Linked DNA regions of Homo sapiens. The protein of the gene in region 1 interacts with the protein of each later gene in a biochemical or structural test. Each region holds a gene or a part of one and is shown in the gene's direction. Other genes may lie near its edges.

Evidence for each region.
Region 2: the proteins of TCEAL3 (region 1) and CDC42 form a complex in vitro, tested with the Homo sapiens proteins (one large-scale study listed by BioGRID).

The regions. Positions count from the first base shown.
Region 1 is NC_000023.11:103,606,367-103,610,609, forward strand, and holds TCEAL3 (transcription elongation factor A protein-like 3), read left to right. Parts: upstream 1-1,596; 5' UTR 1,597-1,692; exon of another isoform or gene 1,693-1,704; intron 1,705-2,237; 5' UTR 2,238-2,307; intron 2,308-2,671; 5' UTR 2,672-2,698; coding exon 2,699-3,301; 3' UTR 3,302-3,561; downstream 3,562-4,243. UniProt on the Homo sapiens protein: May be involved in transcriptional regulation.
Region 2 is NC_000001.11:22,076,393-22,080,208, forward strand, and holds part of CDC42 (cell division control protein 42 homolog isoform 1 precursor), read left to right. Parts: intron 1-2,036; 5' UTR 2,037-2,086; coding exon 2,087-2,191; intron 2,192-3,816. UniProt on the Homo sapiens protein: Plasma membrane-associated small GTPase which cycles between an active GTP-bound and an inactive GDP-bound state. In active state binds to a variety of effector proteins to regulate cellular responses. Involved in epithelial cell polarization processes.

The DNA.
Region 1 (4,243 bases):
TTGCTTGGGCAACAGTGTGGGTTCTGGAGCCATCTATTAAGATAAGAGAAATGAAGAGGAGGGAGTTTTGTGTGTGGAAAAGATCAAGGAAGGATGGTAAAATCACTTGGGACATATTGCATTTGAGGTCCTTCAGGGACATTCAGGTGGATATATCTAATCGTTAATTAAAACGGATCTGAATCAAATTTATGCTGAAGTTCATGTAGAAAAACAAACATACAAGAATGTGTTGGAAAAAAGAGAATCTACTGAGGGGACCTAGCTCTACCAGATATATGAAATTATATATCCTCTATAATTCAACTGGTATATGGATAGCAAACAGACCAATGAAATAGAATAAAAAGCCCAGAAGGTTTTCCAAGTACATATGGATATTTGATATGTAATAAAGGTGGTATCTCAAATCCCTAAAGCAAAGATGGACTTTCTGATGCCAGAACAACTGAGAAACCGATTGGAAAAAGAAAACAAAAGATCCATCAATACTTTATGCCATACACAAATATAAACTCTAAATGTAAAGAAAACCATATGAATACTAGAAGAAAACATGGGTGAATGCTTCTTGGACCTTATGTAGGAAAAGATTTCTTAACTATGAATCGAAATCTAGAGGCAATAAAAGTTAAATAAATTTGACTACTTTTTTTAATGCATGGCAGAAAAACACCATAAACAAAGCCAAAAAGCAACTGACAAACTGGAGAGAAAATTGCAACATATATAACAGTTAATGTATTAAGAAAACTTGAAAATTGAGGTGAGAAGGACCAACAACCCACTAGAAAAATGTGGAAAAGACATGAACCGACAATTCACAAAGAAAGATATTTAAATTGTCCTTAAACACAGATAAGGCAAAATAAAATGCCATTGAGATATTACTTCTCAACTATCATATCAGTGAACATTTAAAAGTATGTCATAGGTTATGTTGGGAAGGGCATTGGGAAACAAAACACTCCCCTATATTTCTGATGGGAATGCAAAAATAGGTCTGAGATTCTGGGGAGGGAATAGCCTGGAGATGTAAATCTGGAAGTCATTGGTCTTTACTGGAAATGAATGAGATCAAACAGGGAGACAGAACTTGAGGACTGAGGAGAGAGGAGGCCCAGGACAGAACCCTAGGAACACTGCCACTCAAGGTGGCAGCTCAGCTTCCTGGCAGGCAGCACCACCCTGGGCTCTGGAGTCAGGCAGAGACAGTCTTGAAAGCGGGCTCTGGAGTTCTGGGGCTGAGCGCTCTTGGCAAAGTCGGGTACCCTCTTTGATCAGCTGTCACACCTGGCGATAATGGCATCAGAGAGAGATACCCTGCGAGGATGCCGTGAGATGCGCCAGGTAAAGCACCTGGGGTCAGAAAGCCACCCCCTCCTCCTCTTCTCCGTGACCCCCCTTTGCTACACAAACACACCCCGACCCCGACCGTCCCCAGCCTCCCGGTCCTTCGGGGTTGGATGGTGAGGTGGGTCAGGCAAGGGGGGCCGAGCTCGGGTGACGCGGCGCTCACGTGACCCGCCGGGCGCCTACGTGGGCACCAGCCCCCGCGCCCGCCCGCCCGCCCTGCGGTCCGGTCCTGGCGCCCGCGCAGAACCAGCTGTCTGAGCTGCCCGGGCAGCGGGGGAGCAGCGAGCGGGCTTCCGCGAGCCGGAGAAGGCACAGGCCTGTCCCGGGTCCCGGCAGGTCAGTGTGAAGGTGGGCGCTGCCGGCGGAACCACGGAAGGGGTGGAGGTGGCTGGCAGTAGGAGTAGGGAGGGGCGGAGAAAGGATCCGGGAGACTGGTGAGGAGGGGGAAGCGGAGCGGTCGGAGGCAAGGGCGGGGGAGCCTGGCCCGCCTTCTCGACGACCCCCTGCACTGAGCCGTCCATCCATTTTAGTACTGGAAATGGAGTACGGGGGGGCAACCCCGCAGTGCAACAGTGAAACGTAGACATATTCTGGAAATAACCGCCTCTCACAATCTGCTCCCATGGAAACATCTGACCTCCGCAAAAACGGGGTGGCGCTGGGACAGGTTGCCTCCAGGGGAAGGGGACACAGAGACAAACGCAGTTTGGAAAGCATCCTGGTTTGGTGCCCGAGGCCTGGAAAGAAATGGCGGCTGGGGTGCGGGGGATGTAGGGGAGGAAAACGTTGGGTAAGCAGGGCCTGGACTCAGGAAAGGGAACCGAGTCCCTGTGAGACCGCTGACTGCGCAGCCCCTACCCCTGTCTCCTGTCTGTCCGCAGGTCTGCGCGTCTGTTCCCAGCGCTCTGCGAGGCCTAAAAAGGAGGAGCAACCTGTCCAGAATCCCTGCAGGTCTGTGAAGGTGGTTGTGGGGGAGCTCAATGGACAGGGCCCTATAAGGGTTGAGAGTGTGGAGGGCCCGGCCAGGGCCGAACTGGGGCCCCTGCCCATCCCCCACTCACATGAACACACACCTTACCAGGCTGAACCAGTGCAGAGAAGGTGGCAGGGACTGCCAGGGAATGGCTGGCTCACGTGTGTGGGAGGAGTGGCAGGCTACGTGGTGGGCAGAAGGCCCTCTTGGGGGCCCTGCCAGCTTAGGGGAACCCTCACCAGGGGTGAGATGCAAGTACTATCCAGACCTGCATTCCACCCCATGCCCTCAGTCTCCCATGTCTCTTATTTGTCTCCTCTTCCCTCCATTCCCATCCCCCAGGACAGGAAAAGGAGGGGAAATCTCGACATGGAAAAACCCTACAATAAAAATGAAGGAAACCTGGAAAACGAGGGAAAGCCAGAAGATGAAGTAGAGCCTGATGATGAAGGAAAGTCAGACGAGGAAGAAAAGCCAGACGTGGAGGGGAAGACAGAATGCGAGGGAAAGAGAGAGGATGAGGGAGAGCCAGGTGATGAGGGACAACTGGAAGATGAGGGAAGCCAGGAAAAGCAGGGCAGGTCCGAAGGTGAGGGCAAGCCACAAGGCGAGGGCAAGCCAGCCTCCCAGGCAAAGCCAGAGAGCCAGCCGCGGGCCGCCGAAAAGCGCCCGGCTGAAGATTATGTGCCCCGGAAAGCAAAAAGAAAAACGGACAGGGGGACGGACGATTCCCCCAAGGACTCTCAGGAGGACTTACAGGAAAGGCATCTGAGCAGTGAGGAGATGATGAGAGAATGTGGAGATGTGTCAAGGGCTCAAGAGGAGCTAAGGAAAAAACAGAAAATGGGTGGTTTTCATTGGATGCAAAGAGATGTACAGGATCCATTCGCCCCAAGGGGACAACGGGGTGTCAGGGGAGTGAGGGGTGGAGGTAGGGGCCAGAGGGGCTTACACGATATCCCATACCTTTAATGCCTTTGGCCTTCCATTCTGATTTCTCTGATGAGAATATTGCTGGCCCTGCTTTCCCTGGTAGGTATTTGCCAGGCCCAATGCTTTAACCTTAAGCTGATACTTTGCTTTAGATGTCAGTCTCGTTACCAGCAGCCTTTTGACCCAACTACGGCGCTCTATATTTTAGTAGAGGATTTTCACCCATGTGCATGGAAAAGATGTTCATGGTACATTGTAAAAAAATAAAATTAAAATTAAAAAAAGTTTGCAGAACCGCATATACAGTATCAGCCCGTTTTTATAAAAATGTAAATGTTTGCATAATGCATTTGTGCACAAAGAAAACTCTGAAAGCATGTACACTAAAAAGCAGCCAATGGTTATTCCTGAATGGTATCCAAAAATGAGTTCAATCACTTGCTGGGTAGGTACCTCCATGCCATTCTGCTGTTGTTGTGCCCATCCTCATGTCTTCCCTAGGTGTAACTACGTGAGTGGGCACTGCTACCCCTTCTCCTGGGTCCTTTACCATCCTATGGCTCCCCCATAGGATGCGATTCTTTTTCTTTTCTTTGCTCTCACTCATCTCTACCTTTTCTTAAAGGATATGTCCTTTTGTCATAACAATAATTTTAAAAACTAAACGAGAAAACAATACATAAACAATTGAACTGTTCAATGAGCTTATGAGGGTAATAAAGACACTTAAAATTTCTGTTGCCAGAACATAAAATGATAAGTAAAATTCATATTACCTCTGAGACTAACAGCTAGAGGTATCAACCTGGCAGTTATAACAAATCCATTGCTGTAAGGGTCAGTCTTGCCATCTGTGAAATGGGGATAATACTTATCTCACAGGACTGCCCAGTGGATCAGATGAGGTATTGAACATGTGAGCTGTCCTTACAGGAGCAGGACCCAGCACCCTGTCAGACACTTAAAAGAAGAGCTGAAGGT
Region 2 (3,816 bases), on another chromosome or scaffold:
GGTTGCAGTGAGCAGAGATCACGCCACTGCACTGACACATACACACACACACACACACAACAAGCAGGGACTTGAGAGTCAGACTGCTTGGGTTTAAATTACAGTTCTCCCAGTTACTGGCTGAATAGCCTTGGCTTAGTTACTTGCTGAGCCTCACTCTTCTTATCTGTAAAATAGGGATAATACAGCACATACTTCATAGGCTTTTTGGGAGGATGAAATGTGTGAATATGTGTAATATGTTTTGAACAGTACATAGCACTTAGTAAATGCTGTATGAGTGTTTGCTGCTTACTATTATTATTTGAGTGCTTTTAGATTTAACCAGTAATTGATTGATCTTAGGGATCAGGGTTGTTAATCTTTAATGCTGTATTAGTTAGTATGGGTGCTTCTTAGTGCATAAAAGGGAAAGGAGAAGGAAAAAGGAGATATAAAAGGAAGTTGAATAAAGAAGGATAAATATGGCTGGCTGCGGTGGCTCATGCATGTAATCCCAGCACTCTGGGACTTTGGGAGGCCGAGGTGAGTGGATTGCTTGAGTCCAGGAATTCAAGACCAGCCTGGGTAACAGTGAGACCCGTCTCTTAAAAAAACAAAAACCAAACAAAAACCCAGCCGGGCATGGTGGCATGCGTCTGTGGTTCCAGCTACTTGGGAGGCCAAGGTGGGAGGATTGCTTGAGTCTGGGAGGTGGAGGTTGCAGTGAGCTGAGGTTGTGCCACTGCACTCCAGCCTGGGTGACGGGAGTAAAACCCTGTCTAAAAAAAAGAAAAATATACTGCAGATAATTTTGATGAGGAGCGGGAGAGTGTATATTTCATGTGAGTTACTCACACTAATGTAGTTTCATGTTCTTTTGTTTCGTGATTTTTGCATCCAATCAACAACTCACAGTGTGTCAGTCTAGAAGTGCTCAGTGCTAGAAGTATAGTGGTGCATGAGGTAGTATAGGTTCATTTACAGGGATGTTAATAGGCATTTATAAATTGTTATGATTAATTGTTGTGAATGGTGCTATAGGAGCATGGTGGCATCTGACCAAGAGTTAGGTGGTTCTGTATTTTTATGTTTAATTATAACCCCTTTAGGATTATAATTTAAATTAATTTAAATATAAATCTTAAAATTTAGGTACATATTGGGTGGTGTTTCTTTTTATTCTTTCAGAAAACTGTTAAAGTATTTCATTGAATCTAAGATTCCAATTTCATAGAAGTCAAAATGTGGGGGAAAAATGGCTGATAATGATTCTAAGAGACTCAAAGATACATTCTGACTTTAGAGATGTTAACATGAAAAAAAGCATCTCAAATTAATGACTCTTTGGTACTTGTAATTGATAGCTTCTTAAAATGGAGGAGGACTCTAGTAAGAGAAGCTATAGTATCTGTTTATAAGTCAGTATGCTTTAGAGCAATCTGACTTTTTCATTATAAAAATGTAGGTTTTGGACTAGGCATTCTGGTGCTAAAACAGCTGCTGAGGCCAGCGATCACCCTGTTCTTTGTTCAGTTCCTCACGTTACTCATATAATTACCGTGTGATCGTGTGGTGCTCTGCTGCTTGTTGGTCAGAGCCTGAGTAAGGCTGAATAAGGCTGGATCATGAACCATTCTTTAAAGCAGTGGCCTTTGTATTGCAGTCTAGTTGACATACATGCATACATACAGGTGTGTGTGCACGTGTAACTGAAGAACAGCTTTCACAAAATAATATTTAGCACACTGTGGAATTTTCTCTGATACAGCCTCTTCTCTTTCATGATAAAAATAAATTCGCTGATTATCACACCACTTTGGACCTTTTAAAAATAACACTTAAGAAGTTGGAATAGCCAGGGATCAGAAACTTAGAAATGGACCTTATTTGTTATTGTAACTTATAGCAAGTCATTGTGTCTCTTATTGGGTTCTTTTAGCCATAATAATTGTGCTAGTTCTTTTCTTGCTCTGAGTGCCTGAACCTGTTGCTAAGTGAGGAAGAAAAATCCATATGTAAGTATAAATAAACAAATGTCTTTAATCTTTTTGCAGGTCATCATCAGATTTGAAATATTTAAAGTGGATACAAAACTATTTCAGCAATGCAGACAATTAAGTGTGTTGTTGTGGGCGATGGTGCTGTTGGTAAAACATGTCTCCTGATATCCTACACAACAAACAAATTTCCATCGGAATATGTACCGACTGTAAGTATAAAGGCTTCCTTCTGTTAGTAAAATGTTGTAAAATTTGATATCCTTTTGAAAACGCTTTCTCTATGTGTACTGAATTTTTTTCTGTTGTCTGCCTTTGTTTCCTGTTTTTAAAGATCTTGACTTCTCATGGGTAAATTATATACACTTTAAACAGCTGAAAAATCAGTGGAAAGTCAGAAGGGGTGACACAGGGTTTGCAAGAAGTGCTGGGAGGCAAAACTCCAGTAGACAAGATTCTAACGAGTGGTGGTCTCAATTTGGTGAAGTATGCCCTACATCTTGGAATGAGGTGACTTTTTTTTTTTTTTTTTTGATATTTTGGCCAATTATTGATCAGTACTTGGAGGTCTCCTGGGATACCATTTGAGGTCCTGTAACTTGAGAGAAAGTAGTATGTGTCTCCACTTTTCTTGTGGAGCTGTTCGCTTAGCAGTAATGGAGCTCCAAACTGGTTCTTAGGGGCAGAGAAGAGAAGACCTGTTATGTTTCGAGAACACCAACAGAGTCCTTTGGGGGTCACTCCCACAACTGTTCTTTTCTTTTTTTCTTTTTTTTTTTTTTTTTGAGATGGAGTCTCTATCGTCCATTCTATCTGGAGTGCAGTAGCGCGATCTCGGCTTGCTGCACCCTCCGCCTCCCGGGTTCAAGCAGTTCTCCTGCCTCAGCCTCCTGAGTAGCTGGGATTACAGGCGCCCGCCACCACGCCTTTCTAATTTTTGTATTTTTAGTAGAAACGGGGTTTTACCATGTTGGCCAGGCTGGTCTTGAACTCCTGACCTCAAATGATCCACCTGCCTCAGCCTCCCAAAGTGCTGGGATTACAGGCGTGAGCCACCATGCCTGGCCCCATAACTGTTTTTTAAATCAACTCTTTGGAATGGTAGAAGGAAGATGGGAATAACAAAAATATTGAAGTGAGAGAGAGACAAGAGTTAGAGTAACACTCATTTGTGAAAGGTAGTGAGACCCTGTCTCAAAAATAAGGAAAGTTTTTTTTTTGAAGGGGGGAGAATTTGAAGGTATTATTAAACACTAAAATCATATTGATATTTTGAATTGGCTCATTTGGAGACAAGATAAATGGAAGACGTTTTGAGGTTCAGTGGACTTACAGGGGACATTTAGAGGTACATGAATCTTGTTTCAGAGTGAGGACAGCTATCAGAATTTTTCTGTTTCAGTCTCCATTGAAGTTATTTACTTGTAAACATAATTTCTGAGTCTTTTATGACTTTGATCTTCTGGTGTTATATTTTAAGTGGGCTTGTGGGTGTTTTATATGTATGTTTGTGTTGTACATCTCTGGAAAAGTGATAGAGTGGAAGGAAGAGTAGTAGTAGAATAAAATTTTAAATGAACCGATTTAGGTAAATGAATGGACCATGAGGCACAAGTAATGTTCTCATGGTACCTGTTGAAGTTAATATGGAAATGGATTTGGTGTAGAATGCATTTAAGTTCCCATCTATGAGTTGGGGCTTGCCATTTCTAGAGTAATAGAAATTCAGAGCTGGATGGGACAATATATATTGTCTTACCCATCTCTTAATGGATGAGGGTACTCAGGCCCAATTTAGGGATGAGACTTAGAAGTCTAAGTTTAATTACTTAGCGTA